Homo sapiens: one gene and its partners. The protein of the gene in region 1 purifies or fractionates together with the protein of each later gene. This does not show direct contact. Each region holds a gene or a part of one and is shown in the gene's direction. Other genes may lie near its edges. The genes, in order: MITF, KLHL20 and RBPJ.

Region 1 (3,737 bases):
ACAAAAAAGCAAATCAAGCAATTTATTTTTAAATGTGGAAATTTGGGTGCCATTAAGATGCTTTGCTTCTTGGCAGTGCATATGGTGGCGCTATATTTGGTGGTGATGAGTAGTGTGCAGCATAAAATGTAAAAAAAAAAAAATTAAAAAAATTAAGCCGCCTGATAAAAATGCCTTGATGCAATCAAGCTGACTTATTTTAATTCAACTACTAATGACTTAAATCCTGTCACCTCTTGATTTTCAATTATGTGGAGTACCATTCTGTGACTTGATTATATTTGCGCAGACTCATTTTATAGTTTGGTGCAATTTAGGATACCCCCAAAGTGCAAACGAAGGGTCTCATTAGGAAACTAAATGTTGTATGCATTTTGGTTTTCCCACAGCAGTTCCGCCGAGCATCCTGGGGCCTCCAAGCCTCCGATAAGCTCCTCCAGTATGACATCACGCATCTTGCTACGCCAGCAACTCATGCGTGAGCAGATGCAGGAGCAGGAGCGCAGGGAGCAGCAGCAGAAGCTGCAGGCGGCCCAGTTCATGCAACAGAGAGTGCCCGTGAGTCAGACACCAGCCATAAACGTCAGTGTGCCCACCACCCTTCCCTCTGCCACGCAGGTGCCGATGGAAGTCCTTAAGGTACGTGAGTGTTGCTCTTGTTGGTTGGACCAAACTCTCTTCCATTTTCCATTTGCTAGGTGTTTTGTTTATCTGAATATGTATTTTGTTAGACTGACCCTTCAGAATTATATTTGAAAACTCCAACTCCCTTAATTCTTACGTGGCTTTATATTTTAAAAGAAGGATGCAAACGCATTGTAACTGTAATAGTAACAATCAGTAAATGGTGGGAGTCAATGTTCCATGAGAAATTGCAAGTAGGAATACATGTTTGTTGTGATGACATCTTTCTTTGGGAAAGTTTCAAAACCAGAATTATCTGAGGTGGGCCTCTTCTGATAATTTGTGTATCTTAAATATTTTTCTCTTAAATACCTTCCATAGCCACTCTTTACTTTTCTTTTTATTTAGTATGTAATATTGGTTGTAAAATCTGACTGTTTTAGAGAGCTCTTCACATATAAGATTGAAGAAGAGCTTTCTGCGCTTTGATAACCAGACTACATAATCCTTTTACTGAAGTGAGTTGTCTGCTTTGGGTCTCTTTGATTTCTTGCTAGAGTAGAAACTGCAGGAGCTTGTTAGCATCATTCGATTAGGGACATATAGCTTCCTAATTACTAAGGAAAATTGTAACAAGTCTAAGAATAGAATTCCATCTCACACGTGTCTTCCACATCACATAGGGAGATACTCCTTGTTTAAGAATAAACATTTCAGTTCTTAAATATGACTGATTCAAGGAAAGTTAAAAGGAAAGTAGAGGAACTTCCTTATTTTTAGTTTTTTTATTTTAGTACCTGCTCACCTAATTCTGAAAAGTCTCAAGTGTTACTGTTCATTAAACAATGTGAACTTTACAGACCGGTGATTCATTATTGGTTTTTGCATTCATCCATGTGCACAGAAAAAATGTCTCCCATTATTTAAAGTTTACTATTAAAGTAAATAGAGAGATGATGTGTTATAATCAGGAATCAATCTGTGAACCTTACCAGGAAGTAGGAAAGAGATTCTTTAAAAAACAAATCAAGAGTCAATTATTTTTTATTTGCGAAGACTTAAAATATAGTGATGCAATAATGGAACTCGGATGAAGAAACCAACTGAAATTGGGTTAGGGAAAAAAGATACAAATAGTTTAGCATAAAGTTTTACTCTAATGTGATTGTTTGAAATTCTGGATATTGCCACAGTTAATGGATTTTTTCCTCTTTCTTTTTTTACCCGTCAGTTAACTCAAGGTTTTCTCTCTGGAGTAGATGATGCATTGAATCTTTCTGTTCTGCTTGGGTGAAAATTGATATGATCACTAAGTTTTTATAGATTTAAGAATTATTTAAGATTTATGTTGTTGTCTCATGCCTGCAGGGGTGATAATCATTGTGTATACCTTAGGTTATTTAAAATTGTATGAATTAAATAGTAACAAGATGTGGAGAAATATGTCTATTTTATTCATCATAATAGTTCACCTTTATAATCTGTAGGGCAAATTTTAGAAGAGTTGCCATGGATTTGGGCTACTAGTGGGTTATATCCAACTGAAGGTAATGTTAAAGAATTTTTATTAAAATCAATATTCCTGTTAAGGCAGCTACAACAGAGAGGAAATTACCCAAATGAAAATGTGTTGAAACATCATTTCCAGATTATCTTAAAAGTGAGCATAATTTCTAAATGCTTTTGTCACTGTAAATATATTATTTTTGAAAATGATTAAAGTTAAAATCTACATTAAGTTGTTTGAATAACATACCAATATTTTTATATGTTGCTGTGTCCTGGTGACACTGGATTGAGCTACAACCCCTAACTTATGTATGCCAGAAAAATGTCCAAAGTTAAAGCACAAATAAATTGTTACAGCTGGACGACATACTCTAACTAAAAATAAGTATTAGGTAAATTTCTCTTTCACTCTGAATATAGTTCCTGTCTATTTAACTTCTGCTTTTTTATATTTCAGTTATATAAACTAGTAAACTATGTCATATAAATAAAAATAAGGAATTATTGCCATAGCTATATGGTTAGGTTTGATAGCTATTTAGACAAATTTTGGTATTCTTAAATGAAGAAACAAATAAGAATACACGATTTTATTAAGACAATATTTTAAGAAAATCAGATAACATTTTTAAAGAGAATATCATATAAGTGATTGCTTCAGATACTTAAAGACTTAGGACTTCATAAATATAGTTGGCTTATTTTCAAAATTTTGTGTATAAAAGTATTATGAAACATTATAGAAAGATAAGTGAGAGAAAGGTGGTTTTTTTTTTCTTTTTTATAGTTTTTAAATCATAAGCATAATTTTGTGAAGTAAGTGGTTAATAGCAAAACAGTTAATATGCTTAATCTTGGACCATTTATTTCTCCATGAATATATATTTTCAAAGAATGGTAATACCAAGTATACTAATTGAGTGCATTATGATACAGATTATATTGAATAAATATTTTCTCATAGTATGGCCTGAGTAAATTCGCTTAATTTTTAAAGGTTTAACTTGCTAAAACAGAACATGCCTGCTTCTCAGTGGAGGTAGATGTATACAATTAGTCACACTTGCATGCACTAGAGAATCTGGTTAAATCTCTCCGTCTCCCAAGTTGTTTGTAAGAACCAGAGGGAAGAAAGGTCATAGTTTAGTTTTCATACACACACAAAGTTAAGTTACCAACATTCTGCTATCTGGATGAATGACTGATTTCAAAAAGCTAAAGCAGTGTTTTCAGGTTAATCCCTTTTTTTGGCAGAGTAAAATTTAAAATATGAAGCTTTATAAAGCATGTTTAAAAGTTATTGACATCTGGTAAACTTAGGACTAGTCAGATTTTGGGTTAGAGATCGAAAATCTGCACCACTCATTCCTCAACGTATAGTCATTGTGCCGTGAGTAAGTTCATGAATCTTTGTAAGATTAGCCTCTGGTTTCTATATTGATTTAATAATATATGAATTTTCCTTCATATTGATTTTCATTTTTGGGGACATGGAATCATGAGTCTTATTGCTATATATTTACATAGTAAAGATATTCTCCAAGTTTTTTAAGAACAACCTTACCCAATTGGGTATTGTAATTTAAGGATGCTCTTTTACCATA
Region 2 (3,737 bases), on another chromosome or scaffold:
GATCACTTGAGCTCAGGTGTTTGAGACCAGCCTGGGCAGCGTGGTGATTCCCCGTTTCTACAAAAAAAAAAATACAAAAATTTGTTGGGCATGGTGGCATGCACTTGTAGTTGCAGCTACTCTGGAGGCTGAGGTAGGCACATCACTTGAGCCCAGGAGATTGAGGCTGCAGTGACCTACGATCATGCCACTGTACTCCAGCCTAGGCAACAGAGTAAGACCTATCTCAAAATTAATTAATTAAAATAATGGTGTTTATTTTCTCATAGGTGCTGCAGCATGTTCGTTTGCCTTTGCTTAGTCCCAAGTTCCTGGTCGGCACAGTAGGCTCTGATCCCCTCATCAAAAGTGATGAAGAATGCAGGTATGAGTGACCCTGGATGGGAAAAATCAACAACTAAGCATTCCTATTTTTTCCTAATTTCCTTATTTGTATTGCTTCCTAAATATTGTATTTTGCAGAGCTGAAACCAGGGCTTTAATTTAACAAGGTTTTCTTCTGGGCTAGAGTCAAGAGGAGGAAAAGAAGAAGAGAGAACTGAACTTCCAGTGTTTCATTCCATTAGGTTTTTATGTGTGGTGCTTACTGGTGTAGAAGTGGCAATAAAAAGGTAGATTTCCAAGATTTTAATGCAGGCTTGAATTTAAAGAGTCAATTCTCTGCTAATATTTTTTTTTTCCTTGAGATAATTAAATAATGCTGTTGACTCTGTCAATGAACATTTTTTCCTTCCATCACATATGTCTGGTTGGGGAATAGAATCAGCCTTGCTTTCTAAATTGTGGACAGAGTTGAAGATCTGCCACTTTCTAAAACAGCTGTAGAAAGATTTTCACTAAAACTAGGTGAAGCAGTTTCCAGAGGTTTTTTGACGAAAGAAACTCTTAACTACTTTTTCAAAGGGGGGGAAAAAAGCAACCTATTTTACTAGGCTGTCTTTAAAGTATATACAAAATGTAATAAATTACATTCCCAATTTGACAGATTGTAAGATTTAGGTTCAAATCTGAAATCATCTGGGATTGTTAACCATTTTTCCCCAGCATGTCCCAAATATAAAAGTGAAAGAGAAAATCCATACTCAGAACTTTGTAAACTACACTGACCTTTGAACCTCCCTTGGTGATTAAAGACATTTAGAATGATCCCTGATTCTAGAATGGTGGTAGGACATGTAGATTCACTTGCATTTCTTCTATAAACTAAAGCCTGTTCTTTTAACAGGAGAGGCTGGAGGGGATTTTAGATGTTTCTATTTTATTTTATTGTATCTTTTTTATATTAATCATTCTTCATTTTTCAGTTTACCATAGACTAGAGTTAAACTAGATTTTTGTATTCTATATTTAAAACACAGACAGGCCGGGCGCAGTGGCTCACGCCTGTAATCCCAGCACTTTGGGAGGCCGAGGTGGGTGTATCACCTGAGGTCAGGAGTTCGAGACCAGCCTCAACATGGAGAAACTGCATCTGTACTAAAAATACAAAAATTAGCTGGACATGGTGGTGCATGCCTGTAATCCCAGCTATTCAGGAGGCTGAGGCAGGAGAATTGCTTGAACCTGGGAGGTGGAGGTTGCGGTGAGCCAAGATCACACCATTGCTCTCCAGCCTGGGCAACAAAAGTGAAACTCAGTCTCAAAAAAAAAAAAAAAAAACACACAGACAAATGGCAATTAATTCTCCTAAATATTTGCAGTAGCAAAAAGGAAAACCATGTACATTATACATGCTGAAATCTGAAGAAATAATACATAGATGCCCTCCTCCATTAAAAGTAAATCAGATTGTATTGTACTGATTCTGATGCAGAAAGTAAAAGTACTTATGAAGTCATATTTAAAAGAAGACCCTTCCTGATATCCTAACTTCTTTTTGCTGCAGTTTCTTCCTCTATAAAGTGAGGATGATAATAGTGCCTATTCCATAAGGCTGTTGTGAAGATTAAATGAGTTTATATCTATTAAGCACTTAAAACCAGGACTAGCACATAGCTGTAAGTGTTGTTACTACCATTAATTTTGTGTTGGTTTGCTCAATATTATAGCTCTATAGTATTATTTGTAGGAACCCTCAAATGACCTAACAAGCTATTAGGAGATCAAAGTCTTTGTCTTTTTTTTTTTTTTTTTTGAGACGGAGTCTCGCTCTGTTGCCAGGCTGGAGTGCAGTGGTGCAATCTCGACTCACTGCAACCTCTGCCTCCCAAGTTCAACCGATTCTCCTGCTTCAGCCTCCTGAGTAGCTGGGACTACAGGCGCGTACCACCACACCCAGCTACTTTTTGTATTTTTAGTAGAGACGGGGTTTCACCATATTGGCCAGGATGGTCTCAATCTCTTGACCTCATGATCCACCGCCCCTCAGCCTCCCAAAGTGCTGGGATTACAGGCGTGAGCCACTGCAAAGTCATTACATGTGTAATTACTAGACTCTTCTCTTAAAGTGTCTTAACAAGACAGGAAATATGTCTCGGTAGACTTGTTGAGAGTAAACCATTCATATGTTACCAGATAGCAAATTTGTGGCAGTACAGTGTTTCTTTTCAGCAATCCGATTTTTGACCCAGTTTTATTACTTTAATCTAGCAAATAACTATTGCCCTGGCTGATGTGCTACCTTGCTAATATCTTGCAGAATCTAATAAAATTTATTAAAAAGTAGTAACTCTGCAGTGTGGTAATCAAATTGTAATTTTTACTTTTCTATAAGTTATTGTTGGCTGTAAGCATGTTGAGCTTTAGGCTAAATTTGCAGTGAGACATGAGTCATGATGGAAATACCAATCAATTCACAACTCAGTTTGACTGGCATTATTGGTTTCATGTTTGTGCCAATTTTAATATTGGCTGGCATTCATGATTTGGTTTGATTTATGCTTGCTTCCCTTTGCCAACCTATATATTCCTAAACTACATTGGGACTTAACTAACAATGTAATTTAGATATTTGGAATAAAGGCAGAATTTTTTCTACAGAGACTTGGTAGATGAGGCTAAAAACTACCTCCTATTGCCGCAAGAACGACCACTAATGCAAGGACCAAGGACGAGACCACGGAAACCTATCCGATGTGGGGAAGTACTCTTTGCAGGTTTGGATCTTAATATACTGTTAGTAAATTGAGTATTTTCCCAGGTGAGAAACTGTCATTTGAAAAATCCTTTGGACAATTATGATATTTACTGTCATAAGACACAAATAATAAGTCAGCATATAGCTTGACTCATAACCCATGATTCCACACTGATATACTCCAAAAGAGTGCTCTATTCTTTTTTCTCATTCAACACCTTTAATATCTATTTTTATATAAATCCAAAAATGTTGGCTGGTCACAGTGGCTCATGCCTATACAGCTTTCTGGAGGCCAGGCGTTTGAGACCAGCCTGGGCAATATAGGGAGGCCCCATCTTTACAAAAAATAAGAAAAACAATTGGCTGAGTGTGGTAGTGCATGTCTGTAGTCCCAGCTACTTGGGAGGCTGAGACAGGAGGATGGCTTGAGCCTAGGAGGTCAAGGCTGCAGTGAGCTGTGATTGCACCACTGTACTCCAGCCTGGGGAACAGAACAAGATCCTGTCTCAAAAAATAAAAAATAAAAATGTCGTGCAGTAGATGTTTTGTTGAAATGAGTCACATGCATTAATTTATATATCAATGTGCAGCTCATCCCATAATCACATGGAATTGTGAAAAAACATTAAACAATTATAATTTATTTCTCCATTCTATG
Region 3 (3,205 bases), on another chromosome or scaffold:
TTTATTATCTTTACTTTTTTGGGGGGTTGGAGGGGGTAGCCTAGCCAGAACATCATTGTAATCTTAAAACATAAGATGCTTTTATTAGATGATCAACTAAAATAGCTGGAAGACAGTACTTTAGAAACAGATAGTTGTAAGATTATAAAATGCAAATGTAACTTATGTTTTCATTTTTTTCTCTGCCTTTTTTGTTTGTTTGTTTTCTCTTTTCCAGTACTGAGCATCTCCACAAATGTCTCCTAACTCAGAAAATGTTTCTTTTCTTTTCAGTTGAGATTTGGTTGCATTCAGGGTTGTAGGTTGGCCTTGCTTGCTAACCCCGCCGGTTTTACCGTGCTTTCATTCCTGAACTTTGTTTATGCCTTTGTTTGGTTTCTTCGAAATTGCAGCAGACTCATTGGGCTACATTTAGTACAGGAACCACGTGTGTAATGTTATACAACACAGTCTAGTAATACAATCATCCCTCTTAGAGTAAAAACTACCTCTAGATTGTGGTAAGCTTTTACTGTCCCATAAAACAGGAGCCACAGTACCTTATGAATGCAAAACTGTAACTTCCTACAGTGTTTCCCTACAGAACATTGTCTTTCTGGTGTCCTGGGCTGTTTTGAAAAAGTTTCCATTAATAGACTTTTTAGAAATTATTATTAGTAGCATTTTTTTTCCAGCTTTGCTGTCTTCATCACTCACTCTATGCTCAGACTATGCCACTGTAAATATTCTTCCTAACATCTTTAAATCGCCTTTTCCTCAGTTTTCAAGGGGAAGGTCATTTGTAAAGCACGTTAGGTGGTTAAATCAGTTATTGCGGTTTTCTCTTACTGCAAGCCTTTTTAATCACCCCCAGGCTGCATTTTATTCTATATCGCCTTTTTTCTTCAAATCTGCTCCAATCACTCACTTCTCTCTTATAAGCTAATCCTGCCTCACACCTTAAATCTGTTTCAGTGATCAAGGGCAGAACTCATTGTGGCCTTATCTTTCTTTGTTGTAATTGTTCACTGTCTCTTTCTTACAGACCACTTATTTCTGAGTAGTAGTTATTCCTCTCTATGGAGTCATGGCAGGAATCATTACACAGTGCTTTTGTTCAGAGCATGGACATGTTCCTAGTGCTGCTTTGCTTTAACGGCCACAAGTTTCCTCCACTTCCTAGGTTTGGTATTTAGTTAAGGAATCATATTAAATTAACCAATAACAAAAGAGATACTTTTGAAGAACAAACTATTCCTTACCCATTTTTGTAGCTCAAAAATAATTTTTCAAGTTCATGACCTTATTAAAATGAACTTGTGTTTTTTTAACAAACATGTATGTTTTATTTTGATAGTTTCTTTCCGTAAGATAATTGAAATATTATACTGTAAACCCTTTTCTTTTCTTTTTTTGAAAAGTCCAAGAATGTACTTATACAGGCATTTTTCCCCACCTATTTTTGGCCATTCTCATACCACAGACTAAAGAGTGAAATGATTTGTCCATTGTAGCTTATTGTTTATCAGTAGTTCTTTTGTCAGCTGCTTACATTTTTTCTTTCATGGTTTTGTGAATCATTTTCAGTATGTAATTTATAGGAACCTTGTCCTCTGGTTATAGTAGACTGTGTGCCCTCCTCCAGTGATGGCATTATTAGACATGCTGGTCATTTACCCTCAGAAAGACTCTCTTATTAGAATGGTGAGTGCTTCAGTTATAGTATGTTTGAATTTTTAAAAAATTCTGTTTTAGAAATGTATCTTATGCTCTCATGACTATGCAGTTTCTAAACATACACATAGAAGCTGAGTCTCTGATCCAATATGTTTTTATTTGTTCCATTTAATTTATCACATAGATTGGGAAGGCAAGCTAAAAGCCTTAAAAATGCCCTTTATATTTTGAGTGATTTCAGCGTTGAACACTAGTATACTATCTAAATTTGCTGCTCACTTTCTTTAAACTGTGGCAATTAAAGGCATGTTTATACATGACTTAATCGTGAAATGTTTGTCACTCTTACTGCACAGACTTATCTGCAATCATAACTGGTTAGTTTTTTTGTTTTGTTTTGTTTTATTGTTTTTAATGAAACTGGTACCATCTGTGCTTTCACAAAAAACTTCCAATGCCATTTTTGAGAACTAACCTAACTAGTCATGCTAACCAGAAAATCCACTGGGGAGGAGGTTCCTTTTGAAACAAAATGCTGTTCAGTTAGTAACCAAGTTACTTTGATTGCAAAAGCAGCTGTGTTTCTGATAAGTACTGAACAAATGTGTGTAATTTTCTGTGCCAGACTTATGACTTTGTTTTCAAGCACTGTAATGTGGGATGGATGGTTAGAAACAATAATATATTAGGGTTTCTGTTTAACCCTTTCAGGACTGAACTGTATCTCCTTTTGTTAATTTTCCCCTGTGTTGTGATAAATGTTTGCCAGCATTCAGTACTGTGTTGGTCCAGATGTAGGTTTATATGCTCATTTTTAGCTTATTTCTTGTACCTTGCAGCATGCTCTACGCATTCAGTCCTTAAGGGGTTTATTTTACAAACTGTGCGCCTGTAAGGTTTATTAGCAATAAGATAGAAAATTGAGCAAGTTTATACCATAATTTTGTAGAAAAAAAGAATCTGCTCAGTTCCATATTTCATCCGTGAAAAACTTGCAATACGAGCAGTTTCAAGGAATAAATAAAAAGGAAATGTAAACCATTGTAAAAGTCTTCTGTCGAATGTGCCTGATGCATGTATTATCGTCTTTTATTTCAGAATACTTCATAAAGATAAAATTAAATTCTATATTATAGTTGGTGTATTTACAATCTTACCATGTACATCACATCAAAGTGATAGCTCTACTAATTTAATTTCCTTGTCAATGTTTTTAACTATATAGTGCTTTAAAGAGATTTTTTTTCCCTGTGTAAATGGTGAAATGGGCTTTGTCACTCAAGGGTCATATCTCTCAAATCAGAATCATTTAAAGCTGATTGCAACAAAATTTGAGAATATTACTTAGCAATAACTTACTTTTCCAATATAAGATGGTCATTTTGTCTGCTATAGGAAGGAACACATAATCGTTTGCCTTTGAGGGGTGGGGGTGGGTCCTAGAAGTGGGGATAGTATTCTTTAATATGAAACAAAGTTAAATGGGGAAGTTACATAAGTTTTTTTTTTTGAGACGGGGTCTTGCTCTGTCGCCCCTGAGCTGGAGTGC

The links.
Region 2: the proteins of MITF (region 1) and KLHL20 purify together in Homo sapiens (affinity purification with mass spectrometry; one large-scale study listed by BioGRID and IntAct). This does not show direct contact.
Region 3: the proteins of MITF (region 1) and RBPJ purify together in Homo sapiens (co-immunoprecipitation; one study listed by IntAct). This does not show direct contact.

What each region holds. Positions count from the first base shown.
Region 1 is NC_000003.12:69,878,745-69,882,481, forward strand, and holds part of MITF (microphthalmia-associated transcription factor), read left to right. Parts: intron 1-389; coding exon 390-639; intron 640-3,737. UniProt on the Homo sapiens protein: Transcription factor that acts as a master regulator of melanocyte survival and differentiation as well as melanosome biogenesis.
Region 2 is NC_000001.11:173,752,944-173,756,680, forward strand, and holds part of KLHL20 (kelch-like protein 20), read left to right. Parts: intron 1-269; coding exon 270-364; intron 365-2,979; coding exon 2,980-3,095; intron 3,096-3,737. UniProt on the Homo sapiens protein: Substrate-specific adapter of a BCR (BTB-CUL3-RBX1) E3 ubiquitin-protein ligase complex involved in interferon response and anterograde Golgi to endosome transport.
Region 3 is NC_000004.12:26,432,219-26,435,423, forward strand, and holds the end of RBPJ (recombining binding protein suppressor of hairless), read left to right. Parts: 3' UTR 1-2,705; downstream 2,706-3,205. UniProt on the Homo sapiens protein: Transcriptional regulator that plays a central role in Notch signaling, a signaling pathway involved in cell-cell communication that regulates a broad spectrum of cell-fate determinations.